Regions from separate parts of the Homo sapiens genome. Here region 1 is linked to region 2. The links come from fine-mapping of genetic effects on gene expression. A gene starts in region 2. The other region holds a variant in brackets. All regions are shown on one strand. Distances are from middle to middle.

What was found.
Region 1: its variant is fine-mapped to the expression of PRKAR1A in atrial appendage (GTEx, PIP 0.99).

The regions. Positions count from the first base shown.
Region 1 is chr17:68,467,120-68,472,498 of GRCh38, forward strand. It overlaps a transcript of PRKAR1A not described here. Among named protein-coding and RNA genes, the nearest start is that of WIPI1, 12 kb to the left of the region's middle. The variant C/T (reference allele first, on the strand shown) is at 2,320.
Region 2 is chr17:68,509,619-68,514,932 of GRCh38, forward strand. It overlaps PRKAR1A (protein kinase cAMP-dependent type I regulatory subunit alpha), which reads left to right and starts at 2,812. Exons shown (of 11, transcript NM_002734.5): 1 at 2,812-2,930. RefSeq lists silencers at 1,993-2,352, 2,773-3,282 and enhancers at 2,286-2,859, 2,613-2,702.

The DNA.
Region 1 (5,379 bases), 42 kb before region 2:
ATTCCTTTGAATACGCATATCACAATTTTATACATTTATCAGCTGAGGGACATTTGGGTTGTTCCCATCTTTTGGCTATTGTGAATATCATGAACATGTGCATACATGTACTTATTTGGTACGTGTTTTCAATTCTCTTGAGAACACTCTGAACTCCTAGGAGTGGAATTGCTGGGTCACCTGGTAATTCTATGTTTAACTTTTTGAGGAACTGCAAAACTGTTTTTCATAGCAGCTGAACCATTTTACATTCCTATAGCAGCATACAGGGACTCCAGTTTCTCCATATCCTTGCCAACACTTGTTATTTTCTGTTTTTTTGTTTTTGTTTTCCGAATTACTATAGCCATCCTTGTGGGTGTCATGAACACTAAAGTTTTATGAGATGCCTGCAAACTGCAAACCCTTGGGACATCTAACCAGTGCTCGATGCCCCAGCATTCTCACTGAGTCAAAGCCCTACTGTACTCTCAAGATCCCTGTGCTCATTCTGGGTCACACTCTTGACACCTGGACAATAAGTTTCAACACAGAGCTCTCTCTTTATGAAGCTCAAATGGGAGTTCAAGAACTCGATATCTGAAGCAGATCCCAGGCTTTCCTTCCTGGCCTGTTCTTTCCAATCTTATCTTTCATTCTCCTAGCTAAAATCTCTTGATATACCACCAGCTCTTTAGGTACACTGGGATATGATTGCTTCCAAACTTAGCTGCTTAGCTTCGGCCGGGGATCTCTATTATGCAGGGGTTGTTGTTGTTGTTGTTTGTTTGTTTTTGTTTGTTCATTTGTTTTGGAGACACGATCTTGCTCTGTCACCCAGGCTGGAGTGCAGTGGTGCCATCATGGCTCACTGCAGCATTGACTTCCCAGGCTCAACTGACCCTCCCACCTCAGCCTCCACAAGTAGCTGGGACCACAGGCACATACTACCATGCCCAACTAATTTATAGATATACATTTTTTTTAGAGAGATGATGTTTTGCCATGTCACCCAGGCTGTGATGGAGGTCCTTGTTAGGATGGAGAGTGGGGCCAATCATGCAGATGATACAGAAAAATAAACACTGAGGACCAGAAACTTTGGTCCCTTTGGCTGTAAGGAAAACCCTGTGTGACATCAAAGAGGGCATGTCTAGGAGGTATTTGATATCTGCATCTGGGGCTAAGGGTAGATATGTGAGATTGGGAGAGAGATCTAGGAGTCATTGGGGGAAGATGTAGTAGCTGAAGCTGTGAGAGGAGGCAGGCTGTAATGGAAAATGTGTCAGTTGGTAAAGAACTGGAACGAAATGTCCTGGTTTGACGTTTTGAGTATTCCTTTAATTTTAGGAACACTATCAGAAAAGAGGCTAGCTTGTGAGCTGAGTCGGCTGCAGCAGCTCTAAACCACACATTGCTGATGAGTGAGAACCTCTGTTATAAATGGAAATGTGAACTGGCAAATGCTCATTGGCTAAAGCTGAATGCACCAGTTTATTTTGGTACCTATTATGTCCATGATCTCCTATTTTCCTTATTGATTGCAAATACGCACGAGGAATAAAAAGCTGGCTTGCTTTCCAAAAACATGACTGAATGTTTTCACTGCTGAATATCTAAAGAGGGTACAGATTGGACCTTTCATTATTTCTCTGAGGTTAGAAATGTCCTTTGGTGGGTTTCTAATTTTTCATGAAAGGTCAGTTCCAGAGACTATTTACATGCTGTTAGGAAAAACATCAAGCAGACAAGACATATCTCAAAATATTTAAAGTGGCCCATTCCTAGGCTCTCAGCTCTTCTCTCTCCACTTCCTCTCCAGGGATCTGTTCCACAGATGGGGGCTTAAGTCAGCCTCTATCTATAGGTGACCCTTGTCTGACCTTATACTCTGGAATGCTCCATATGCCTCTGACTTTCATCCCAGGGAACATCAACACCCACTTCCGCTGGCATTCCTGATGGGATCTCTTTCTCCTGAGCAGTTGAAAGAGTCCTGCTTCAGTGACTCCCAGGGAAAATTGAGAGAGTCATTTTTTTAAAAAAAGAGATTTATCCCACACCAAAACAGGAATCACTCATTTTGCACCATTTTAGGCACTGTCTATTTTCAAGGTAGGCTGCTTTTTTTTTTCTCTCCTGTTCTTCCAATCCATGAACATAGTATAGATTGTTAAGTCCTTTTGAAGTGTAAAATTTCCCACAACCACATAGCTCAATTTCTTCTACCCCCAGGAGCTTTTTTTTCTTTTAATCACATTAGCCTGTGTATTTCTCCCAAAACAGTTATCAAAACTGAAATTATCTTGTTGATTTCTTGGTTTACATGTTTACTATCTG[C/T]CTCCTCCATCTAAAACAAAGTTCCATGAGGATGGGGTCTCCTGTCTTCTCCTAGCACCTAGAGCAATGCCCCCATGTATAGGTGCTCATGAAATGTTTGTTGGCTGACTGACTTACAGAATCAGTTGCTTAAATATCATACAAAACTTTCCATCATGAATGTCCTTTTTTTTTTTCCCTCTCTTGAGTAAGGATGTTGTCCTGATTTAACTAGCATTATTGACAAATGCCAATTAACTGTATTAGTGGCTCTCAAGCTTTTGGATGCTCTTTACACTCTTAAAAATTATTAAGGACCCCAAAGAGCTTTTGTTTGTATGGATTATATCTATCATTACTTAGTGAAATAGAAATTAAAACTGAGAATTTAAAATATTTATTAATGCATTAAAGTAATAATAAACCCATTATATGTTAACATTAATATTATTTTTTATACCCCCAAACATACAAAACACAGGGAGAACAGAGGCATCGTTTTTTGTTTTTGCATATCTCTTTCATGTCTGGTATAATAGAAGACAGCTGAATTCTTATATCTGCTTCTGTATTCAACGTATCATATCACAACATCATGTAGCCTTTGAAAAACCCCTCTGTGCACTTGTGAGAGAATGTGAGTAAAAAAGGCGAATAACATCTTAGATTTTTTTTTTTTTTTTGAGACAGAGTCTCACTCTGTCACTCAGGCTGGAGTGCAGTTGCGTGACCTCGGCTCACTGCAACCTCCATCTCCCAGGTTCAAGTGATTCTCCTGCTTCAGCCTCCTAATAGCTGGGATTACAGGAGCGTGCCACCGCACCTGACTAATTTTTGTATTTTTAGTAGAGGCAGGGTTTCACCACATTGGTCAGGCTGGTCTGAAACTCCTGACTGCGTGATCCACCCGCCTTGGCCTCCCAAAGTGCTGGGATTACAAGCATGAGCCACCGTGCCCGGCCCATCTTAGATTATTTTGTAAATAGTTTTGACTTCATAGATGCCCCAAGAGAGTCTTGGGTAAACCCAGGGATTGCTGAAGCACATTGAGAACCAAAGATTGATATTAGTGGAGAGGAATATTTTTCTTTGTCTTTGAACTACATTATCTTTAAACACTACTTTTCTCTTCGATATCCTTTGCTTAGCTTAATATTAAAATACATTTGCATTCCTCAAATCTGCCAAAGGTGGCCAAGATACATAGTGAGGAAGGGGTGATGGAAAAACAAACCAAAGGTTAATAATTCGTTGCTTTTATACAGACACATCCACATACAAACAAAAAAACAATAAAAACATGTGCCTTTGTGAAGCATGCACTGTGTGCTCTATATTTTCCAAAGATTATCTCTATTATTATATCAACATTTCCAGGCAGGAATTATCAGCTTCATTTCATAGACAAAGAAATGGAGGCTCAGAAAACCAAAATAATGTATGAAAGATTGCCAAGCTAATAAGTAATAGAGAGGTGACTGCCACCCCCAAATCTCTTTTCTTCCAAAAGCATGGCCTTTTTGACCATCAAATTCTAGATTACCACAAAATGGGAGGGAAAAACTCAGAAACAATGAAGAGTTCACTGTACACATTAGCCTTATTGTTTTGTATAAATGAATAAAAAAACTAACTCCTTTTTTTCTTCTAGTGATGTGTAAATTTAAAAATTCAATGCATTTTTTCCCCCAGATTTGAAAAGTAATACACCCACAGCAGAAAACTGAAAGACAACTAAATGTCCATCAGTAGGGGACAGGGTGGTTGCATTAATTGCGACACACTTGTGGATGCAATACTATGCAGTCATTAAAAAGAACAAAGCAGCTCTATTGGTACTGAAATAGAACTATCTCTAAGATGGGAAAAAATAAGGTGGCTCAAGTTCTACAGTATGCTGTCATTTGTATTTAAAATGTATATATGAATATGCACTGGTAACTGGTTGCTTTTGTGAATTCAGTAGAGGGACAAGCAGGAGGCAGCTTATTTTTCTGTAACCATAATCTCCTCCTCCCCCAGACATAGACCTTGATGTGTGGTATGGACAGAAACCCTAACTTTTCAGAGAGCAGAACCATCCAGCCATGTGTAACATCAAAACATCACTCTCACAGCCAATTCAAAATGGCTAAGCCCCTCTATTCTTTTCCCACCTCCTCCTTTCCGTTCCGTCTCTCTCTCTGCCTGAGTTGGGGCCATGAGAGGGGATTACTGGGAGAGGGGGGAGGTCTTCGCCAGGGATGTCCCTGTAGTACTTTCTTGCCTAATGCTTTTCTACTAGGGGAGCTCTCCAAATGTCTGCAAATGCCTGACTGTCTCAGAGGCCCCCCACTTGTGGGGTTATTCAGAGGACTCCCGTGAGACCTTCTGAATGGCCTAGTTTCTTTTCTTTTTTTTTTAGACAGAGTCTTGCTTTGTTGCCCAGGCTGGAGTGCAGTGGCGCGATCTCGGCTCACTGCAAACTCTGCCTCCCAGGTTCAAGCCATTCTCCTGCCTCAGCCTCCCGAGTAGCTGGGATTACAGGCACCCGCCACCACGCCTGGCTAATGTTTTTGTATTTTTAGTAGAGACGGGGGTTTTACCATGTTGGCCAGACTGGTCTTGAACTCCTGGCCTCAAGCAATCCGCCCGCCTGGGCCTCCCAATGTGCTGGTATGACAGGCCTGAGCCACCGCGCCCAGCCTGCACTGCCTAGTTTCTAATAGGAGTGAGGAGGTGTGGTTCAGCTGTCTTCTTGTGCTCAGCTCCTTCCCCAGTGCCCCACCCACACAACCCCTTTCTTCTGTGGCCCAGGCAGGTGGCAAGTAAGGCCATTCAGGATGGCTCCAGCCTTGCTAACTCCCCCAGCCTCTATGACTCTCGAAGCTCTCAGACCCTCACCTTGCCATGGGTGGAGAAGTCCTCCCCACACTACCATTTCCTCACCCCTCCATGTTCTGGGGGACACAGGTGGAACTCCCAGGAACTTTCCTGCTCCGGGCGTGTGAGTCTTCACTGCACTACCAAGTTTCCAATCAGGGCCAGTGACTTAACTTGCAGACCCCAGTGCAAAATGGAAACGTAGGGTTTCCTGTCCAA
Region 2 (5,314 bases):
GTCATTTCTGAAACATAATTTACGAATACCAACAAGTTGGTATTCTCACAGTGGCACAGTGGCACTGAAAGAACATTTGCACCATTTGGAAAGCACTGAGGCTATTTAGTTTTTCAGAACAGCTGTCTCACTGAACTTTCCCCGGGCTCAACTGTCTACTGCCCATTTCCCTTTATGTCTCCTAAAGCCCCAGCATATGAGGATTTGGCACCTAGAACAAGGTTGAGTGTGACTGACACAGGAAATGGCCCGTGGCTGGACTGGCGCCTGCATGCAGCTGAATGGGGACACACAGCCAGGACTCAGCAAGGAAGCAGCTGTCACTCAAAGTGCTCAGCTCAATGTCAGCAGCTTGCTTGTTTCCTTATTCTTAGTGTCTTAACTGCACTTGGAAGGTAACACTAATGGTGGGACATAGTGTCACTCTGACTTAACCTTGTAGTTTGGGTAGCTCTGCAGGAAGAGGGAGAAATGGGAAGTAAATTAACATTCATTTAATATATCCCCCACTGTACTGAACACCATATATATATATGTAGACAGAGAGAGAGAGAGAGAGAGAGAGAGAGAGAGAGAGATCTATCTATTCTGCAATGGAGAGTGATTAAGATCACTGCCTGGGTTTAAGCCATGTTAGCTGTGTGGCCATGGGCAAGTCACTTAACTTCTCCATGTCTCATGTTTTTTTCTGTAACAATAACAATATTACCTATGTTAAGAGTTACTATGAGGATTAAATTAATTATGTGTAAAGCCCTTAGATCAGTGCTTGGAACACAGTAAGTGCTATACGTGTGTTTGCTGTTATACCCTTAGTAGTTAACTTCAACAAAGTCCTGTTCATCCTTTTATGACCGAGGAAACGGACACCCATGGAGATTAAGTCAATTACCGGACATGGCAGAGCCTGAAACCAAACTCAGATTTACCTGACTGCAATATTTTCTTCCCATAACATGACCGGGCCTGCTCAATGCTATCAAATTCCCTCTGCTGCTTGCCAGCGTAGGGTTCAGTTTATCAACCCTTCTTTGTACTGTCAAGAGTGAAATCCTATCTGACTGAGGCTCTTTTATCCCCATTTCTGATCAACCCTGGAGAAGGGCCAATGGTCAACATTTGGGGAGTCAGTGAAAGGAGAAACTTCCCTTTTCCATTCCCCCCTGTAAGCCTGATTGCCCTTTTGATATCGCCTATGTATCCCTATCAGAAGGCAGTGAATAACATAACTAAATAAATCATCTGATGGACAGTACCCTTAGAGCCTGGTGGATTTGGGGGAGCAGTCGGCCTCCGAGGGCAGCGCTGCCCAATAGGAATATAATGGGAGCCATCTGTGTAACTTTAAACTTTTTAATAGCTACACTAAGAATTAAAAAACAAAAGTGAAATTAACTTTAATATTTTACCTAATATATCAAAAATATTATCATTTCAATCTGGAATCAATATAAACACTATTGAGCTACTTTTTTGTATTGTGTTGAGTTCATGATTTACTTTAAACATACAGCCCTTGAAGTATATACAATGTTACTACAACAGCTCCTGGACACTTGCATATGTGTGTATTTTGCTTTTTTGTATTGTGTTGAATCCATTATGAATTTTAAGCACACGGCCCTAGAAATATATACAATGCTACTAAAGCAGCCCCTAGCCAGACACTTGGACATGTTTCCTTGATGGGCCTTCTTTATTGAGTTACAGACTTGATGTGTCTAAAATTGTACCGTCTCCCTTTTCTTCCTCCTTAGACAGATACTCTGATGGAAAAAAAAAATGGCTGAAAGAGTAAAGTCGCTTTTCCTCCGAATTTTCCCCATTAGTGCAGCTTGTCTGGACAGCTGCGATTTCTTGTTGGGTCACAGGGCATTTTTGACAATCTGCACGCTCTGCACTTCTCCCTCTGTGAGGTCAGGAGTGATGGGGGGGCACTTCAGGTTCTAGAAGGACTCAGGCCTCCTCTTGGACCCTGACAAAGTCCTTTCCCGTGCCTGGTTTCCACAGGGACGGTGTTGCCTGCACAGACGACAGCACCCCCGGCGGGGGAGAGCGGCCCCAGCGGAGACTCGGCAGGGCTCAGGTTTCCTGGACCGGATGACTGACCTGAGCCCGGGGCCCGGGCGGCGCTGGCCGGGCACAGGATGCGCGGCCCGGAGAGCGCATCCCGGCCATCCGCCCGCGCTCGGCCCCGCAGCGCAGCTGCTGCAGATCCGCGGGGGCCGCCACCTCCTCCGGGGGCTGGCAGCGACAGGACTCTCCCCGCCCCGGCCCGGGGCCCTCCCTTGCAGGGGCTGCGGGGAGGAGTCGCCCACCTGTCATCTGAGACGCCCCACGTGGGTCGGCCAGGGAGGGGGTGGAAAGGAGGGAGAAAAGGCAGAGGCGTCAAGGGAGGCCGGAGGGAGAGTGGGGTGGACAGAGGAGCGGAGGGACGAGAGGGAAGCGCACGATAGCTGCGCGGAGAGAGAGCGAAGAGCAGGCGGAGGAACAAAGGCGACCCAAGACACCCAGAGAGGGACAGGTAAGGAGGGGCAGGTGAGCAGGAAGGAGGAGAGAACCGGGCTAGGGAGACTGCGGAAAGGAGAAGTGGCGGGCGTGAGGAAACTGCTGTGGATAAGGGACGAGTAAGATGGAAAGAATGGCGGAAGACGAACGACCGCAGAGTGAGGGTCCTTCCAAGAGCGACCAGGGGGGAGGAACTGGGGCTGTTGCGCCCTTAAGGTTGCTAAGGCGACGGTTCTGGCCAGAGCGAGGCGCATTGACGTCAGTAGCCGAACGCTGATTGGCTGCGGCCAGGCCGTTTCCGGTGGAGCTGTCGCCTAGCCGCTATCGCAGAGTGGAGCGGGGCTGGGAGCAAAGCGCTGAGGGAGCTCGGTACGCCGCCGCCTCGCACCCGCAGCCTCGCGCCCGCCGCCGCCCGTCCCCAGGTGAGTGGGGTCGGCCGGGGGCTCAGGCGAGGTGAGCTTCGTCGCTTCGCAGCCGGTTTGCGGGAGCTGGACCGATCCAAGATGGCGTCACGGGGAGCGACCTGCAGGGGGACGGCCGCACCCCCTGCCCCTCCCCGGCCCGGCGGGCGCCTCCCCGCAGGCCTCACGCCCCCGGCTCCGAGTCTGCATCCTCAAGGCCGTCTGGGCGTTGGCTTTGGTGCGGGGCTCCCCAGCCGCCCCGCTCGCGCTCGCTGCCCCCACCCCACGGCTCCTGGGGCCCTGGGCCCTCCGCGGCCCTCCCCGGCCGCCTTCGCCCCCGCGCGCCGCGGCCTCTTCGCTCACCCTCCCCCATTTCCTGAAGGACAACGGCTCTATTTTACTGGGGTCCGCCATCGTCTCGTCCGCCGGTCCTGGCTCTTCTTGTAAGCCGGTAGTTTTCCTCTCCACTTTTGACGACTCGTCATTGCTAGCAGTAGCCTTTCCTCTTCATAGCGGAGTGATCTTTCCCCCAACACGACGGTCTTAGTCGGGCTCCTGAATTTCCTCTTGTCCCCTTTCACCTCTCTCCCTTTCCCAATTTTGCCCCCCTGAGGCCTCCTCGCCACCACTGTGGCCTTCCGACTGGCGTAGCTTGAAGTCTCGGCTTCCCTTCATTTTGTGGTCATGACCGTGGCCTACGTGAAGTGAAGGGCATTTTCCTGCCCTTCTTCTAGAAAATACACGGTACCTATTAACCTCTTCAGCTCAGAGCCTGTGGTGACGACCGTCCTACTCCTTGAGAGATTCCCAAGAGATCCGTCTTTTTAGCAGAGCGAGGAAAGCAAACACTTACTCAAGATGACCCTAGGGGAGCCGTAACTTGGCTGGTCTAAGGGGGTGCGGTCTGAATCAGGAACAGTTTCTCAAAGTGTTTTTATTTATTTCCCAGAATGTAATCCTTTCGAAACAATTTTGTCACAACTGAATTTTCAAAAGAATGAATCTGAGTGTTTTGTTTTACATAGAGACAATGCAGCGAAAGTTTTAAAGCAGTTAAATAATTGTGTGTGGGGAGGGAAGGCTAGGTTGTTGGGCTTTACAAATAAGTACACATAGAGAATCCGGGTAACTCGATTAAAAATATTAAGACTGTGAAGTCTGGTTATTCAGGGATTTACATGGTGACTGCATTAATTTTGGTACATTTCTGTTCGTATACTGTCCTATTACCGGTGGCTATCTTTTTGGTTTTCGTAATACATTAGTTGTTTCAAACAAAAACACAGTTTCACTCCTTAGGCCCAGTTCTCTCATCTCTACCAGCCAAAGACCTGATCTTAGAATGATTGATCATTTGAATGTTCTTAAAATATGACAATGCTTTGAAGCATGAAAGATCTGATTTATGATTGTTCTTGGTGGCCTTTAAGTATTATTTGAAATGCAGACAATTCTACTGAAGTGGATCTTCAGTTCATATGATTGCCTGACCTGGAGAAGTGGCTTGTATAAATCTATCCTAAAGTAAATGCGCGTTTTTGTTTTTGTTTTGCCTGTTTAAAGTAGCAGCATGATTATTTTTCCATGGCTTCTAATTTATGTGCTTGTCTTGGAGCCACGAACTTTCTAATGGTCTGTTAATTAGTCTACTTGTTGTTGACCTTTATGGTGAAAGTTGTCAAAACAAAATGAGTAACAGTGTAGCACTTTAGAATAGCTCTTTACTCTGTTAATTCTTTCTATAAGTTCTTTTAAATTTACAGTTTCATCTCAATAGTTTACAATGCATTATAATTGGAAAAGTCTGATTAGTATTGAATTCAGTTGCTGAGTGGAGGGGACCACACTCTTGTCTTCTACTCTTAAGTGCTTAGTAATTAGGAGTTGGAAGGAAAACAGTATATGACCCTGTTGTTAAATTAGTAAACTTTTAATTCTAGGGTAAGGTTAGCTGCTCATCATTATCTCTGTTTGCTTTACTTTACATAAAGGTACCATAATTCGAATCCTCTAAAATCCATTAAATGCAATTTATCCATTAAATGTAATCCATTAAATGCAATTTATCTATTGAATCTTCATGCAAGTTTGAAACTTAAGTGTTTTAACATTCTCCTGTCAAGATGAAGAAAATATTTTGACAATTTTCTGTCCAAATGTTTTACAGTTTATGTGGTAAGAATTCTCCCCTCCCCCAACTAAGGATTTTCCTTCTTTTACCACTAGTGTATTATCATTTAGGGGTGGAATCTGGCAAACGAGTCTGGAATAAAGGTTGCTTTTAAAACTCATCTAATTTTCTTGTGTGTTTTTAAAAATTTTGATTATGCTAGTAGTTGGCTAATCAGATCCTCACTCCAGTGGTTTGCTCTGTGACGTTAGGATACTCCCATGGGATAGAAGTT